Regions from separate parts of the Homo sapiens genome. Here region 2 is reported to be linked to region 1. The links are microRNA targets in miRTarBase. Many come from high-throughput screens and were not tested one by one. Region 1 holds a microRNA gene; the other region holds the end of a gene's coding sequence.

Region 1 (7,112 bases):
TGAGGTGACGTTCATCTACCGAGACCCAGGCTCCTATCTTGTGACAGTCACCGCGTCCAACAACATCTCTGCTGCCAATGACTCAGCCCTGGTGGAGGTGCAGGAGCCCGTGCTGGTCACCAGCATCAAGGTCAATGGCTCCCTTGGGCTGGAGCTGCAGCAGCCGTACCTGTTCTCTGCTGTGGGCCGTGGGCGCCCCGCCAGCTACCTGTGGGATCTGGGGGACGGTGGGTGGCTCGAGGGTCCGGAGGTCACCCACGCTTACAACAGCACAGGTGACTTCACCGTTAGGGTGGCCGGCTGGAATGAGGTGAGCCGCAGCGAGGCCTGGCTCAATGTGACGGTGAAGCGGCGCGTGCGGGGGCTCGTCGTCAATGCAAGCCGCACGGTGGTGCCCCTGAATGGGAGCGTGAGCTTCAGCACGTCGCTGGAGGCCGGCAGTGATGTGCGCTATTCCTGGGTGCTCTGTGACCGCTGCACGCCCATCCCTGGGGGTCCTACCATCTCTTACACCTTCCGCTCCGTGGGCACCTTCAATATCATCGTCACGGCTGAGAACGAGGTGGGCTCCGCCCAGGACAGCATCTTCGTCTATGTCCTGCAGCTCATAGAGGGGCTGCAGGTGGTGGGCGGTGGCCGCTACTTCCCCACCAACCACACGGTACAGCTGCAGGCCGTGGTTAGGGATGGCACCAACGTCTCCTACAGCTGGACTGCCTGGAGGGACAGGGGCCCGGCCCTGGCCGGCAGCGGCAAAGGCTTCTCGCTCACCGTGCTCGAGGCCGGCACCTACCATGTGCAGCTGCGGGCCACCAACATGCTGGGCAGCGCCTGGGCCGACTGCACCATGGACTTCGTGGAGCCTGTGGGGTGGCTGATGGTGGCCGCCTCCCCGAACCCAGCTGCCGTCAACACAAGCGTCACCCTCAGTGCCGAGCTGGCTGGTGGCAGTGGTGTCGTATACACTTGGTCCTTGGAGGAGGGGCTGAGCTGGGAGACCTCCGAGCCATTTACCACCCATAGCTTCCCCACACCCGGCCTGCACTTGGTCACCATGACGGCAGGGAACCCGCTGGGCTCAGCCAACGCCACCGTGGAAGTGGATGTGCAGGTGCCTGTGAGTGGCCTCAGCATCAGGGCCAGCGAGCCCGGAGGCAGCTTCGTGGCGGCCGGGTCCTCTGTGCCCTTTTGGGGGCAGCTGGCCACGGGCACCAATGTGAGCTGGTGCTGGGCTGTGCCCGGCGGCAGCAGCAAGCGTGGCCCTCATGTCACCATGGTCTTCCCGGATGCTGGCACCTTCTCCATCCGGCTCAATGCCTCCAACGCAGTCAGCTGGGTCTCAGCCACGTACAACCTCACGGCGGAGGAGCCCATCGTGGGCCTGGTGCTGTGGGCCAGCAGCAAGGTGGTGGCGCCCGGGCAGCTGGTCCATTTTCAGATCCTGCTGGCTGCCGGCTCAGCTGTCACCTTCCGCCTGCAGGTCGGCGGGGCCAACCCCGAGGTGCTCCCCGGGCCCCGTTTCTCCCACAGCTTCCCCCGCGTCGGAGACCACGTGGTGAGCGTGCGGGGCAAAAACCACGTGAGCTGGGCCCAGGCGCAGGTGCGCATCGTGGTGCTGGAGGCCGTGAGTGGGCTGCAGGTGCCCAACTGCTGCGAGCCTGGCATCGCCACGGGCACTGAGAGGAACTTCACAGCCCGCGTGCAGCGCGGCTCTCGGGTCGCCTACGCCTGGTACTTCTCGCTGCAGAAGGTCCAGGGCGACTCGCTGGTCATCCTGTCGGGCCGCGACGTCACCTACACGCCCGTGGCCGCGGGGCTGTTGGAGATCCAGGTGCGCGCCTTCAACGCCCTGGGCAGTGAGAACCGCACGCTGGTGCTGGAGGTTCAGGACGCCGTCCAGTATGTGGCCCTGCAGAGCGGCCCCTGCTTCACCAACCGCTCGGCGCAGTTTGAGGCCGCCACCAGCCCCAGCCCCCGGCGTGTGGCCTACCACTGGGACTTTGGGGATGGGTCGCCAGGGCAGGACACAGATGAGCCCAGGGCCGAGCACTCCTACCTGAGGCCTGGGGACTACCGCGTGCAGGTGAACGCCTCCAACCTGGTGAGCTTCTTCGTGGCGCAGGCCACGGTGACCGTCCAGGTGCTGGCCTGCCGGGAGCCGGAGGTGGACGTGGTCCTGCCCCTGCAGGTGCTGATGCGGCGATCACAGCGCAACTACTTGGAGGCCCACGTTGACCTGCGCGACTGCGTCACCTACCAGACTGAGTACCGCTGGGAGGTGTATCGCACCGCCAGCTGCCAGCGGCCGGGGCGCCCAGCGCGTGTGGCCCTGCCCGGCGTGGACGTGAGCCGGCCTCGGCTGGTGCTGCCGCGGCTGGCGCTGCCTGTGGGGCACTACTGCTTTGTGTTTGTCGTGTCATTTGGGGACACGCCACTGACACAGAGCATCCAGGCCAATGTGACGGTGGCCCCCGAGCGCCTGGTGCCCATCATTGAGGGTGGCTCATACCGCGTGTGGTCAGACACACGGGACCTGGTGCTGGATGGGAGCGAGTCCTACGACCCCAACCTGGAGGACGGCGACCAGACGCCGCTCAGTTTCCACTGGGCCTGTGTGGCTTCGACACAGGTCAGTGCGTGGCAGGGCCGTCCTCCATGCCCCTCACCCGTCCACACCCATGAGCCCAGAGAACACCCAGCTTGCCACCAGGGCTGGCCCGTCCTCAGTGCCTGGTGGGCCCCGTCCCAGCATGGGGAGGGGGTCTCCCGCGCTGTCTCCTGGGCCGGGCTCTGCTTTAAAACTGGATGGGGCTCTCAGGCCACGTCGCCCCTTGTTCTCGGCCTGCAGAGGGAGGCTGGCGGGTGTGCGCTGAACTTTGGGCCCCGCGGGAGCAGCACGGTCACCATTCCACGGGAGCGGCTGGCGGCTGGCGTGGAGTACACCTTCAGCCTGACCGTGTGGAAGGCCGGCCGCAAGGAGGAGGCCACCAACCAGACGGTGGGTGCCGCCCGCCCCTCGGCCACTTGCCTTGGACAGCCCAGCCTCCCTGGTCATCTACTGTTTTCCGTGTTTTAGTGCTGGTGGAGGCCGCACGCTCTCCCCTCTCTGTTTCTGATGCAAATTCTATGTAACACGACAGCCTGCTTCAGCTTTGCTTCCTTCCAAACCTGCCACAGTTCCACGTACAGTCTTCAAGCCACATATGCTCTAGTGGCAAAAGCTACACAGTCCCCTAGCAATACCAACAGTGAGGAAGAGCCCCTTCCCACCCCAGAGGTAGCCACTGTCCCCAGCCCATGTCCCTGTTGCTGGATGTGGTGGGCCGGTTCTCACCCTCACGCTCCCCTCTCTGGACCGGCCAGGAGGCTTGGTGACCCTGAGCCCGTGGTGGCTGCTCCTGCTGCTGTCAGGCGGGGCCTGCTGGTGCCCCAGAGTGGGCGTCTGTTCCCCAGTCCCTGCTTTCCTCAGCTGGCCTGATTGGGGGTCTTCCCAGAGGGGTCGTCTGAGGGGAGGGTGTGGGAGCAGGTTCCATCCCAGCTCAGCCTCCTGACCCAGGCCCTGGCTAAGGGCTGCAGGAGTCTGTGAGTCAGGCCTACGTGGCAGCTGCGGTCCTCACACCCACACATACGTCTCTTCTCACACGCATCCCCCCAGGGGCCCTCAGTGAGCATTGCCTGCCTCCTGCTAGGGTCCAGCTGGGTCCAGTACACCAGAACGCACACTCCAGTGTCCTCTGCCCTGTGTATGCCCTTCCGCCGTCCAAGTTGGAAGGTGGCAAACCGGATGAGTATCCTGGGAGGGAGTGAGCTCACCGGCAGTGGCCAGGCCCCTGGGAAACCTGGAGTTTGGGAGCAGCATCCTCCATGGGTCCCCCAGTCCTTCCAGCAGGCCAAATAGACCTGTGTTGGAGGTAACCCCACTCCCACGCCAGGTGCTGATCCGGAGTGGCCGGGTGCCCATTGTGTCCTTGGAGTGTGTGTCCTGCAAGGCACAGGCCGTGTACGAAGTGAGCCGCAGCTCCTACGTGTACTTGGAGGGCCGCTGCCTCAATTGCAGCAGCGGCTCCAAGCGAGGGGTGAGTGTTGAGCGGGGTGTGGGCGGGCTGGGGATGGGTCCCATGGCCGAGGGGACGGGGCCTGCAGGCAGAAGTGGGGCTGACAGGGCAGAGGGTTGCGCCCCCTCACCACCCCTTCTGCCTGCAGCGGTGGGCTGCACGTACGTTCAGCAACAAGACGCTGGTGCTGGATGAGACCACCACATCCACGGGCAGTGCAGGCATGCGACTGGTGCTGCGGCGGGGCGTGCTGCGGGACGGCGAGGGATACACCTTCACGCTCACGGTGCTGGGCCGCTCTGGCGAGGAGGAGGGCTGCGCCTCCATCCGCCTGTCCCCCAACCGCCCGCCGCTGGGGGGCTCTTGCCGCCTCTTCCCACTGGGCGCTGTGCACGCCCTCACCACCAAGGTGCACTTCGAATGCACGGGTGAGTGCAGGCCTGCGTGGGGGGAGCAGCGGGATCCCCCGACTCTGTGACGTCACGGAGCCCTCCCGTGATGCCGTGGGGACCGTCCCTCAGGCTGGCATGACGCGGAGGATGCTGGCGCCCCGCTGGTGTACGCCCTGCTGCTGCGGCGCTGTCGCCAGGGCCACTGCGAGGAGTTCTGTGTCTACAAGGGCAGCCTCTCCAGCTACGGAGCCGTGCTGCCCCCGGGTTTCAGGCCACACTTCGAGGTGGGCCTGGCCGTGGTGGTGCAGGACCAGCTGGGAGCCGCTGTGGTCGCCCTCAACAGGTGAGCCAGGCCGTGGGAGGGCGCCCCCGAGACTGCCACCTGCTCACCACCCCCCTCTGCTCGTAGGTCTTTGGCCATCACCCTCCCAGAGCCCAACGGCAGCGCAACGGGGCTCACAGTCTGGCTGCACGGGCTCACCGCTAGTGTGCTCCCAGGGCTGCTGCGGCAGGCCGATCCCCAGCACGTCATCGAGTACTCGTTGGCCCTGGTCACCGTGCTGAACGAGGTGAGTGCAGCCTGGGAGGGGACGTCACATCTGCTGCATGCGTGCTTGGGACCAAGACCTGTACCCCTGCCTGGAGCTTTGCAGAGGGCTCATCCCGGGCCCCAGAGATAAATCCCAGTGACCCTGAAGCAGCACCCCGACCTTCCGCTCCCAGCAGCCACACCCACCGGGCCCTCTCCGGCGTCTGCTTTCCACAATGCAGCCCCCGCCCAGGAGGGCCCATGTGCTTACCCTGTTTTGCCCATGAAGAAACAGCTCAGTGTTGTGGGTCAGTGCCCGCATCACACAGCGTCTAGCACGTAACTGCACCCCGGGAGTCGTGGGCATCTGCTGGCCTCCTGCCGGCCTCCTGCGCTGCTGACAGCTTGCTGTGCCCCCTGCCTGCCCCAGTACGAGCGGGCCCTGGACGTGGCGGCAGAGCCCAAGCACGAGCGGCAGCACCGAGCCCAGATACGCAAGAACATCACGGAGACTCTGGTGTCCCTGAGGGTCCACACTGTGGATGACATCCAGCAGATCGCTGCTGCGCTGGCCCAGTGCATGGTAGGATGGCCCCACCTGCTCACCCTGCCCCGCATGCCTGCCAGGGCACTGGGTTCAGCCCCCCAGGGCAGACGGGCAGCTTGGCCGAGGAGCTGAGCCTCCAGCCTGGGCTCCTTCCTGCCATGGCGTTCCTCGGTCTCTGACCTGCTTCAGTAGCCTCAGCCGTTCTGTCCTGTGTGAACGCAGGGTGCCTCTCGGGGGACCCAGGGTGTAAAGAGGGGCCCAGATGTGGGGAGGGACTAAGAAGATGCTGCTCTGTGCCCTCCACTCTCCCCTCCCCTCCCCTCCCCCTTCCCTCCCCTAGCCCCTCCCCTCCTCCCCTCCCCTAGCCCTTCCCCTCCTCCCCTCCCCTAGCCCTTTCCCTTCTTCCCCCCCAGCCCTTCCCCTCCTCCCCTCCCCTTTTTCTCCACTCCCCTCTCCTCTCTCCCCTCCTCCTCCGCTCTCATGTGAAGAGGTGCCTTGTGTGGTCGGTGGGCTGCATCACGTGGTCCCCAGGTGGAGGCCCTGGGTCATGCAGAGCCACAGAAAATGCTTAGTGAGGAGGCTGTGGGGGTCCAGTCAAGTGGGCTCTCCAGCTGCAGGGCTGGGGGTGGGAGCCAGGTGAGGACCCGTGTAGAGAGGAGGGCGTGTGCAAGGAGTGGGGCCAGGAGCGGGGCTGGACACTGCTGGCTCCACACAGGGGCCCAGCAGGGAGCTCGTATGCCGCTCGTGCCTGAAGCAGACGCTGCACAAGCTGGAGGCCATGATGCTCATCCTGCAGGCAGAGACCACCGCGGGCACCGTGACGCCCACCGCCATCGGAGACAGCATCCTCAACATCACAGGTGCCGCGGCCCGTGCCCCATGCCACCCGCCCGCCCCGTGCGGCCCTTTCCTCTGCCTCCCTCCTCCCCCCAACCGCGTCGCCTTTGCCCCATCCCATCTTCGTCCCCCTCCCCTCCCCCCAATTCCCATCCTCATCCCCCTCCCCCAATTCCCATTCTCCTCCCCCTCCCCCTTCCCTATTACCATCCCTTTTCTCCATCTCTCTCCCCTTTTCTCCATTTCCCCCCCCGTCCTCCCCGTCCTTTTGTCCATTCCCCTCATCTTCCTCATCCCCCTCATCCCCCTTCCCCTCCCTTATCCCCCTTCCCCTCCCTTTCCCCCTGCTCCTCTTCTTCTCCCTTCTCTTTTCTCTACCCTTTTCCTTCCTTTTTCCTCCCTCTCCCCATCATCCCCCTCATCTTCGTCCTCATCCCCATCACCTTCCCCCTCCCCCCTCCACCACTCTCTCTCCAGCTTCCCCCTTCCTTCTGCCTGCACCTCGCTCTCTGCCCCCTCAGGTTCCCCCTTTCTCCCAGCCCCCACCCTCCGGCTCCCCCTTTTTGCCTGCCCCCACCCTCCCTCTACCTCCCTGTCTCTGCACTGACCTCACGCATGTCTGCAGGAGACCTCATCCACCTGGCCAGCTCGGACGTGCGGGCACCACAGCCCTCAGAGCTGGGAGCCGAGTCACCATCTCGGATGGTGGCGTCCCAGGCCTACAACCTGACCTCTGCCCTCATGCGCATCCT
Region 2 (7,112 bases), not on the chromosome of region 1:
GAAGACTGCTGTGAGCTGTGATTGTACCACTGTACTCCAGCCTGGGTGACAGAGCAAGAACCTGTCTCAAAAAAAAACAAAAAAAACAAAAAAACAAAAACAAACAAAAACAAAAAAACGGCCGGGTGCGGTGGCTCACGCCTGTAATCCCAGCACTTTGGGAGGCTGAGGCGGGTGGATCATGAGGTCAGTAGTTCAAGACCAGCCTGGCCAACATGATAAAACGCCATCTCTACTAAAAACACAAAAAATTAGCTGGGCTTGTTGCCCGGCACCTGTAATTCCAGCTACTTGGGAGGCTGAGGCAGGAGAATCACTTGAACCAGGGAGGTGGAGGTTGTGGTGAGCCGAGATCACACCACTGTACTCCAGCCTGGGCAACAGAGTGAGACTTTGTCTCAAAAATAAAATAAAATAAAATAAAGGCTGGGCGCAGTGGCTCACGCCTGTAATCCCAGCACTTTGGGAGACCGAGGCAGGCGGATCACAAGCTCAGGAGAGCGAGACCATCCTGGCTAACATGGTGAAACCCCGTCTCTACTAAAAATACAAAAAAATTAGCCGGATGTGGTGGCGGGCGCCTGTAGTCCCAGCTACTCGGGAGGCTGAGGCAGGAGAATGTGTGAACCCGGGAGGCGGAGCTTACAGTGAGCCGAGATCGCGCCACTGCACTCCAGCCTGGGTGACAGATCGAGACTCCGTCTCAAAAAAAAAAAAAAAAAGAGACCAGCCTGATCAACGTGGAGAAACCCCGTCTCTAATAAAAATACAAAAAAAATAGCTGGGCATGGTGGCACATGCCTGTAATTCCAGCCTGGGCAACAAGAGTAAAACTCTGTCTCAAAAAAAAAAAAAAAAAAAATAGCAGAACCTGGGGACTGTGACTTCCTTGGGAGGAGCTGCCCATCCTCTTCCCTTTCATTCTCTCAGCTTTTTGGCCTTTCAGCAAGGAATTGCTTTATGTAAACTAAACGTGGAAGAAAAAGAAATTGTCTTCTCACCTAATTGTAAATTAGTGATGTTTCCCTGGTGCCAGTGAGTATGTTCAGTTCTTGGAGACTTAATGTTAGCTTGTCCTTGAACTCTGAGCTGATGAGTTGTGATATCTACCATTCAAAAGGCCAGGACTGAGTCATGATGGGATTCCTGTGGGGGCAGTTGGCACATGTCTGGTAGATTGGGATAGTGGTGCTGTAGATGGGTATTCTCTACTTGTAGTTTTCCGTTTGAGGGTTCCTGGTGCCCTAACTTCGTGGGATCTGTCCAGCCGCCTTTGTTGAGGTTGGCTTGCCATATACATCCCCTTCTGGAATTTGAAGAATGTTTGGTTTCAGACTGCTCCTCCGCACTGACCCGAGACAGGATAGGAAATTGGACAGATAGAACTGACTCGTCCTGCTGTTCTTGTGTAAGACTAGCTTGCTTCTGGGTCTTGTGTCTGTGGCCCCTGCCTTAGGAGCAATCATAACCCTTTGGGTCTTCTTTGAGCCCTATGTTAGCCCTGTCTGGTTCTGGACCCTCATAAGGTGTCAGACGTATGCCTCTGAATGAGTCCTCCATGTCTAAAGCCACCCCTCTGTCCCAGCAGGTACCACGAGTGGATGAAATCAGAGGAGCTGCAGCGTTTGACAGCCTCGGAGCCGCTGACCCTGGAGCAGGAGTATGCCATGCAGTGCAGCTGGCAGGAAGATGCAGACAGTGAGGAGTGCCCCCCCACTTCCCCTAGCCCTGGTACTGGGAGGGCTGACTCCACAGTCAGTCTCCAGGTTCCTTCCCTTTCCCAGCCCCGGCCATAGAAGCTTTGTGAAAAGCCTGGAAGGTGCTGGAACTCCTGTATTCTCATGGCCCTGAAGCCAGTCCCTGTGGCTGACCCTTCTGTCCTCTTCCCCACCCACTGCATCGGGCTTGGAAGGATTTGGAGAAAGTAGAGCATTTGGGGCTCTGGCTGTAAATTGAGGCCCTGCCCCTCATGTCCCTCACCACAGCCTAGTGTGGTGACTGCCCTCCTCTGTGTTCCCTGCTCTCTGAGAATTTGGTTGCTGGTTGGAGAGGCTTTTTCTGTATGAGGCAGATTTGGAATTTTGTAATGAGCTGAAGGAAGCTCTGGGACCCCCTCTTCTCCTGGCAGACTCAGAGATGCTGGTGTTCTGCAGTGCTCTGGCTTGGGTAGGAGTACCATCCTCTCTTCTCTCCTCTGGGGAGTGTGTGTGATAGCCCTGTCACCTCCTCCTCAGAGTGTACCTTCATTGTGCTGGATGCCGAGAAGTGGCAGGCCCAGCCAGGCGCCACCGAAGAGAGCTGCATGGTGGGAGATGTGAACCTCTTCCTCACAGATCTAGAAGACCTCACCTTGGGGGAGATCGAGGTCATGATTGCAGGTTTGTTTCACCTAGCCCTGCCTTCCGCTGACTCCCGGCTCTCAGATCTGCTGACTGAGCCTGCCGAGGCTGCAAAGGGTGGGCACTCACAGGGTTCACTGGGAGGCTCCATGTGGTGAGTCCAGGGCCTGGCTGGGCAGCCTGCCCACCTAGCCCCCTCAGCCTGGTGGTACACCCTCAGCCTCATCACTTTAGTCCTTATGCTTAGGCGTGAACTTAACCCTTGGTTTGGGGTAGATTCAAGTATGGTTAGTCCCATAGTTGGGGTGGGCTGGGGACCCTCAGAAAAAGGTCTCTGGAGCATGTTGTCATATTACAGGAGGAGGCCCTCCTGTTTCTGCTCCTTCATGGTCCTCAGTTTCCCCCAAGTGGCTACTGACTATCCCCATGAGGCAGCATACTGACTCCATGAGGTAAAGAGGTCAGCTTTGAAGTCAGGTTGCTGGGTTGCAAGCTGTGAGGCCTTTCACACTTCTTTGTGCCTGTTTCCTCGTCTGCAGAATGGTAATGATAGTAGCAACTTCAGAGTTGTTGAGAATTAAATGAGATGGTGTCTGCCAAGTGCCCGCACTGGAGCCTGGCACACGGCGTCAGCGCCGCTCCTGTTGTCTCTCCTAGAGCCCAGCTGCAGGGGTAAGGGCCTTGGCACTGAGGCCGTTCTCGCGATGCTGTCTTACGGTAAGAAAGTGTGAGCAGACAATGCGGGAAGTGGGCAGGCCCCAGGTGAACTTTGTTCAGGTGTGAGGGTTGGGGGCAGGTGAAGGTTCCTCCTCTGCAGCTTGGGACAGGAGGGTGGGGGCAGGCGCCTCCTTACTTGCCCCTGTCTCATCTCCTCTGCGAGGAGTGACCACGCTAGGTCTGACCAAGTTTGAGGCTAAAATTGGGCAAGGAAATGAACCAAGCATCCGGATGTTCCAGAAACTTCACTTTGAGCAGGTAAGGATGTCCTGGGGCAGAGTGGGGCTTAGACCTGGGTGGTGGGCCTGGTGGTGGTAATACTGTAACTTAGCAGGCTTTGTTCTCTCTGGCTCACGTAGGTGGCTACGAGCAGTGTTTTTCAGGAGGTGACCCTCAGACTGACAGTGAGTGAGTCCGAGCATCAGTGGCTTCTGGAGCAGACCAGCCACGTGGAAGAGAAGCCTTACAGAGATGGGTCGGCAGAGCCCTGCTGATGGCTGGGCCTTGTGGGCAGCCACTCTGTGTGAGCAGGGTGTTGGGCCCATACACTTCAAAGACCAGAGCCCTGCACTGGGAGAGTGCTCCTGGCCCAGGCTGGGAATCACCTTTCGAGGCCCTTCAGACTCTGGCGGGGCTTGCTGTGGCCTCCCTCCAGCTAGTGGTGTGGCTGAGCAGACTCCAGGGCCAGGGCCAGTTCCCTTCTCCCCTCCCGGCCAAACCCAGACCCAGACTCTAGGAAGCTGGAATGGAGGGCAGGGATCCATGGGAGATGTCGGGATGAAGGTGGGAGCTGGAGGTGCAGGGGGACCTGGAACATGGATGGGAGTGGACAGGCCTTTCTCCTTAGAGGCCAGAGGTGCTGCCCTGGCTGGGAGTGAAGCTCCAGGCACTACCAGCTTTCCTGATTTTCCCGTTTGGTCCATGTGAAGAGCTACCACGAGCCCCAGCCTCACAGTGTCCACTCAAGGGCAGCTTGGTCCTCTTGTCCTGCAGAGGCAGGCTGGTGTGACCCTGGGAACTTGACCCGGGAACAACAGGTGGTCCAGAGTGAGTGTGGCCTGGCCCCTCAACCTAGTGTCCGTCCTCCTCTCTCCTGGAGCCAGTCTTGAGTTTAAAGGCATTAGTGTTAGATACAGCTCCTTGTGGCTGGAAAACACCCCTCTGCTGATAAAGCTCAGGGGGCACTGAGGAAGCAGAGGCCCCTTGGGGGTGCCCTCCTGAAGAGAGCGTCAGGCCATCAGCTCTGTCCCTCTGGTGCTCCCACGTCTGTTCCTCACCCTCCATCTCTGGGAGCAGCTGCACCTGACTGGCCACGCGGGGGCAGTGGAGGCACAGGCTCAGGGTGGCCGGGCTACCTGGCACCCTATGGCTTACAAAGTAGAGTTGGCCCAGTTTCCTTCCACCTGAGGGGAGCACTCTGACTCCTAACAGTCTTCCTTGCCCTGCCATCATCTGGGGTGGCTGGCTGTCAAGAAAGGCCGGGCATGCTTTCTAAACACAGCCACAGGAGGCTTGTAGGGCATCTTCCAGGTGGGGAAACAGTCTTAGATAAGTAAGGTGACTTGCCTAAGGCCTCCCAGCACCCTTGATCTTGGAGTCTCACAGCAGACTGCATGTGAACAACTGGAACCGAAAACATGCCTCAGTATAAAACAAACATTATAAAACGAACGCGTTGCTTGCCGTGGCTCCCTTCGTACCATGTGTACCTCAGCAATGAGAGTTCCCTTGGGGCCACCCATTCCTTCCACCAGTCTTCAGGTTAATGAAGAGTCAAAGGTCCCCCAGGGCTTCCCCACCCAGCAGGTGAGATAGGGAGGGGCCCTCCACGACCCCTGTGGAGGGGAATCTGTCAGGGGCCAAAGGGTAGAAGCAAGGGTGGGGTGGGGGCAGGTCAGCTGAGCAGGGCACTGCTGTGGTAAGGGTTTTGGATGGTTCCTCTGACAAGGAGCAGGAGATGGCCAGATAGTGACTGGCCTGGGGGACACTGTCCACTCCCTGATTCCAGATCTACCTGCTTTACTCATTCCCCTCAGCCCAGGAGCCTATTTTCTGAGAGGTGTCCCTTTGGGTTGGGTGGAGACTAGCCTGGGGGCACCTTCCTCCTGAGCACCTGCCCGGAACCTCCCGGCTCTGCAGCCTAGCTCTTGCAAGCCACCTTCCTGGACCTCCAGATCAGGCTTCAGGTGCCAAAGGTATCAGGGACCTGGGTCTTTTGTTGGGGGCAGGGCACCTTGCCCTTGAACAGTCCCTTCCACCCCAGCTAGCCACACAGCATGTCCCCGGGCTCAGTGGACCGGTTTGTTTTCCCCTGGCACTGGACACTTGCCCTCCAATCAGGTCACAATGGCCAGATAAGATAGAGGATCTGGCACCAGCCCAGCCTGCCCCTGGGAATTCTGCACCCCACTGGCTATAGGCAGAAAGAGTAAAGCCAAGTCCTCACATTCCAAACCCAGCTCCATCCTGGGACACACTTTCCACGCTTCTGGAATTAAAGGAACCTCCCAGAGTCCTCTGAGAACGTTGGTCTGAGCTCCCACTTCCCCTTGTAAATATCCCCGTTAGACAAGGGGTCCCCAGCCCACAATCGGTGCTTGCAGCCCAGCACACAGGCACACTGACCACACCAAGCTGAATACCCGGCTGGGTGCATGCATCTTCCTTCCTACAGGACTGCAGCTAGGCCCTCTAGCTAAAGCTACCCAGGCTTGGGGTCACAGGGAGCCCTTGATGGCCCTCCCTCCAGTGTACCCCACCCTCCCAGCCAAAGACCACCTTGGCTTACCATTTCTCAATTTCTACCTATAAGGGGTCCAAGGCCAGAGGACAAAACTTCCAAGGAACACACGGAGGCTGAAGGGTTTGGAGGAACCAGCTGAATTTCTGAAAGTGTTTCCTTACAATGGTGGTACCTGGCTCAGGGATGGGCAGGGGTAGCCAAACCCTCCCCGTGCTGCCCAGTTCGCTGAGGGTGGGAGTAGGAACAAAAGTTTAAGGCTGAGGCCACTGCCATGCCCTGGATGTAACAACCAGGAAAATCATGTTAATCAAGGAAACAAAAATTCCTCTAGACTCTGCAATACTGCACTCTTAACAAAAATCAAATGAAAACAAGACGTGTCTGCCACAGGTCTCAGGGTAACAGATGCCCTGTCCACTGAGAGCGGCAGTTCTGCAGTCAGAGTTCTTTGATCAGCCCTGGACCCATTTATCACATGGGGGAGGAAGGGAGGGTGCCCTCTCGCCTGGTCCCATGATCCTGGCATGGTGCAGGTTCCAGCGATGTCCCAGGCAGGGTGGCAAAGGGACACCCGGTAGGATGAGGCACTCAGTGAGGAGGAGGGAGGCAGAGTCTCCTTTCTGACTGCGGGAGGACGGGAACACATTCACCTTCCCTAAAGTCAGGGAAGAACATAGTTCTCTAGAAAAATCATTTGTCAAGAAAGGGGATGTGGGTGCTGATTTGTACATTGATTCAGGGGAGTAATTGGGGAGAAGGAAAAAGGTGGGGTGGAATGCTGGCTCGGCCCTGCCAGTCACTGGGTGGCAGCAGGGCGCTCAGAGGTTGCTGAAGAGTTCGTTTTTCTTGCTCCAGTCCATCTGCGGGGCCCGTTTGCTGCTGCGTTTCTGGTGGGCCCTCTCTTTGGCCATGGCCAGGGAGATGTTGAAGTCTAGGATGGGGTCGGAGGAGGAGGTAGACGAGGGCGCTGTGGAGTCCTGTTTTGGGGGGCTGTCTTGGGAATTCAGCTGTAAAGAGAAGTGGGGGCAGGAAGTTGGGAGTCAGTCCCTCATTAGGCTCCCTGGTCCTCAGCCTTGGTGAGGTGGCTCCGTTGGGGCCGTGCCCAGGGAAGCCAGGTCACAAGAACAGAATGCGGCTCAGCATGTGACCTCAAAGGCAGGCTGGTGTGCCAGGAACAAGTGGGGCCTGGGAATCGGCTTCCTGTAACCCAGTTGCCACCCCCCGCATGGCTGGCCTACCTCCTCGCTGGTGTCACTGGAGGCGGATCTCACCAGGGCTGGCCTGGGGCTCTCCAAGGCTGCCTCTGCCAGGGC

What was found. Region 1 holds the annotated microRNA hsa-miR-6511a-5p (CAGGCAGAAGUGGGGCUGACAGG, at 4,141-4,163, shown strand). A microRNA usually pairs through its seed, bases 2 to 8, with sites in the 3' UTR of a target mRNA and lowers its output. Matches are read on the target gene's strand: a 7mer-m8 pairs with bases 2 to 8, a 7mer-A1 pairs with bases 2 to 7 and ends in A, and an 8mer does both.
Region 2: the mRNA of NHERF1 is a reported target of hsa-miR-6511a-5p. Seed matches in the 3' UTR shown: 7mer-m8 at 6,404-6,410.

What each region holds. Positions count from the first base shown.
Region 1 is chr16:2,103,769-2,110,880 of GRCh38, reverse strand. MIR6511B1 (microRNA 6511b-1) reads left to right here and starts at 4,128; the gene lies at 4,128-4,212. PKD1 (polycystin 1, transient receptor potential channel interacting) reads left to right here. Exons shown (of 46, transcript NM_001009944.3): 15 at 1-2,629; 16 at 2,849-2,998; 17 at 3,933-4,076; 18 at 4,204-4,483; 19 at 4,577-4,790; 20 at 4,857-5,016; 21 at 5,407-5,559; 22 at 6,239-6,383; 23 at 6,986-7,112.
Region 2 is chr17:74,768,162-74,775,273 of GRCh38, reverse strand. NHERF1 (NHERF family PDZ scaffold protein 1) reads right to left here. Exons shown (of 6, transcript NM_004252.5): 5 at 7,038-7,112; 6 at 5,921-6,806. The coding sequence ends at 6,618. It overlaps NAT9 (N-acetyltransferase 9), which reads left to right. Exons shown (of 7, transcript NM_015654.5): 3 at 1,586-1,698; 4 at 2,235-2,378; 5 at 2,997-3,056; 6 at 3,220-3,314; 7 at 3,416-4,745. The coding sequence ends at 3,550. Among named protein-coding and RNA genes, the nearest start is that of NAT9, 4.6 kb to the left of the region's middle. RefSeq lists a silencer at 4,270-4,369.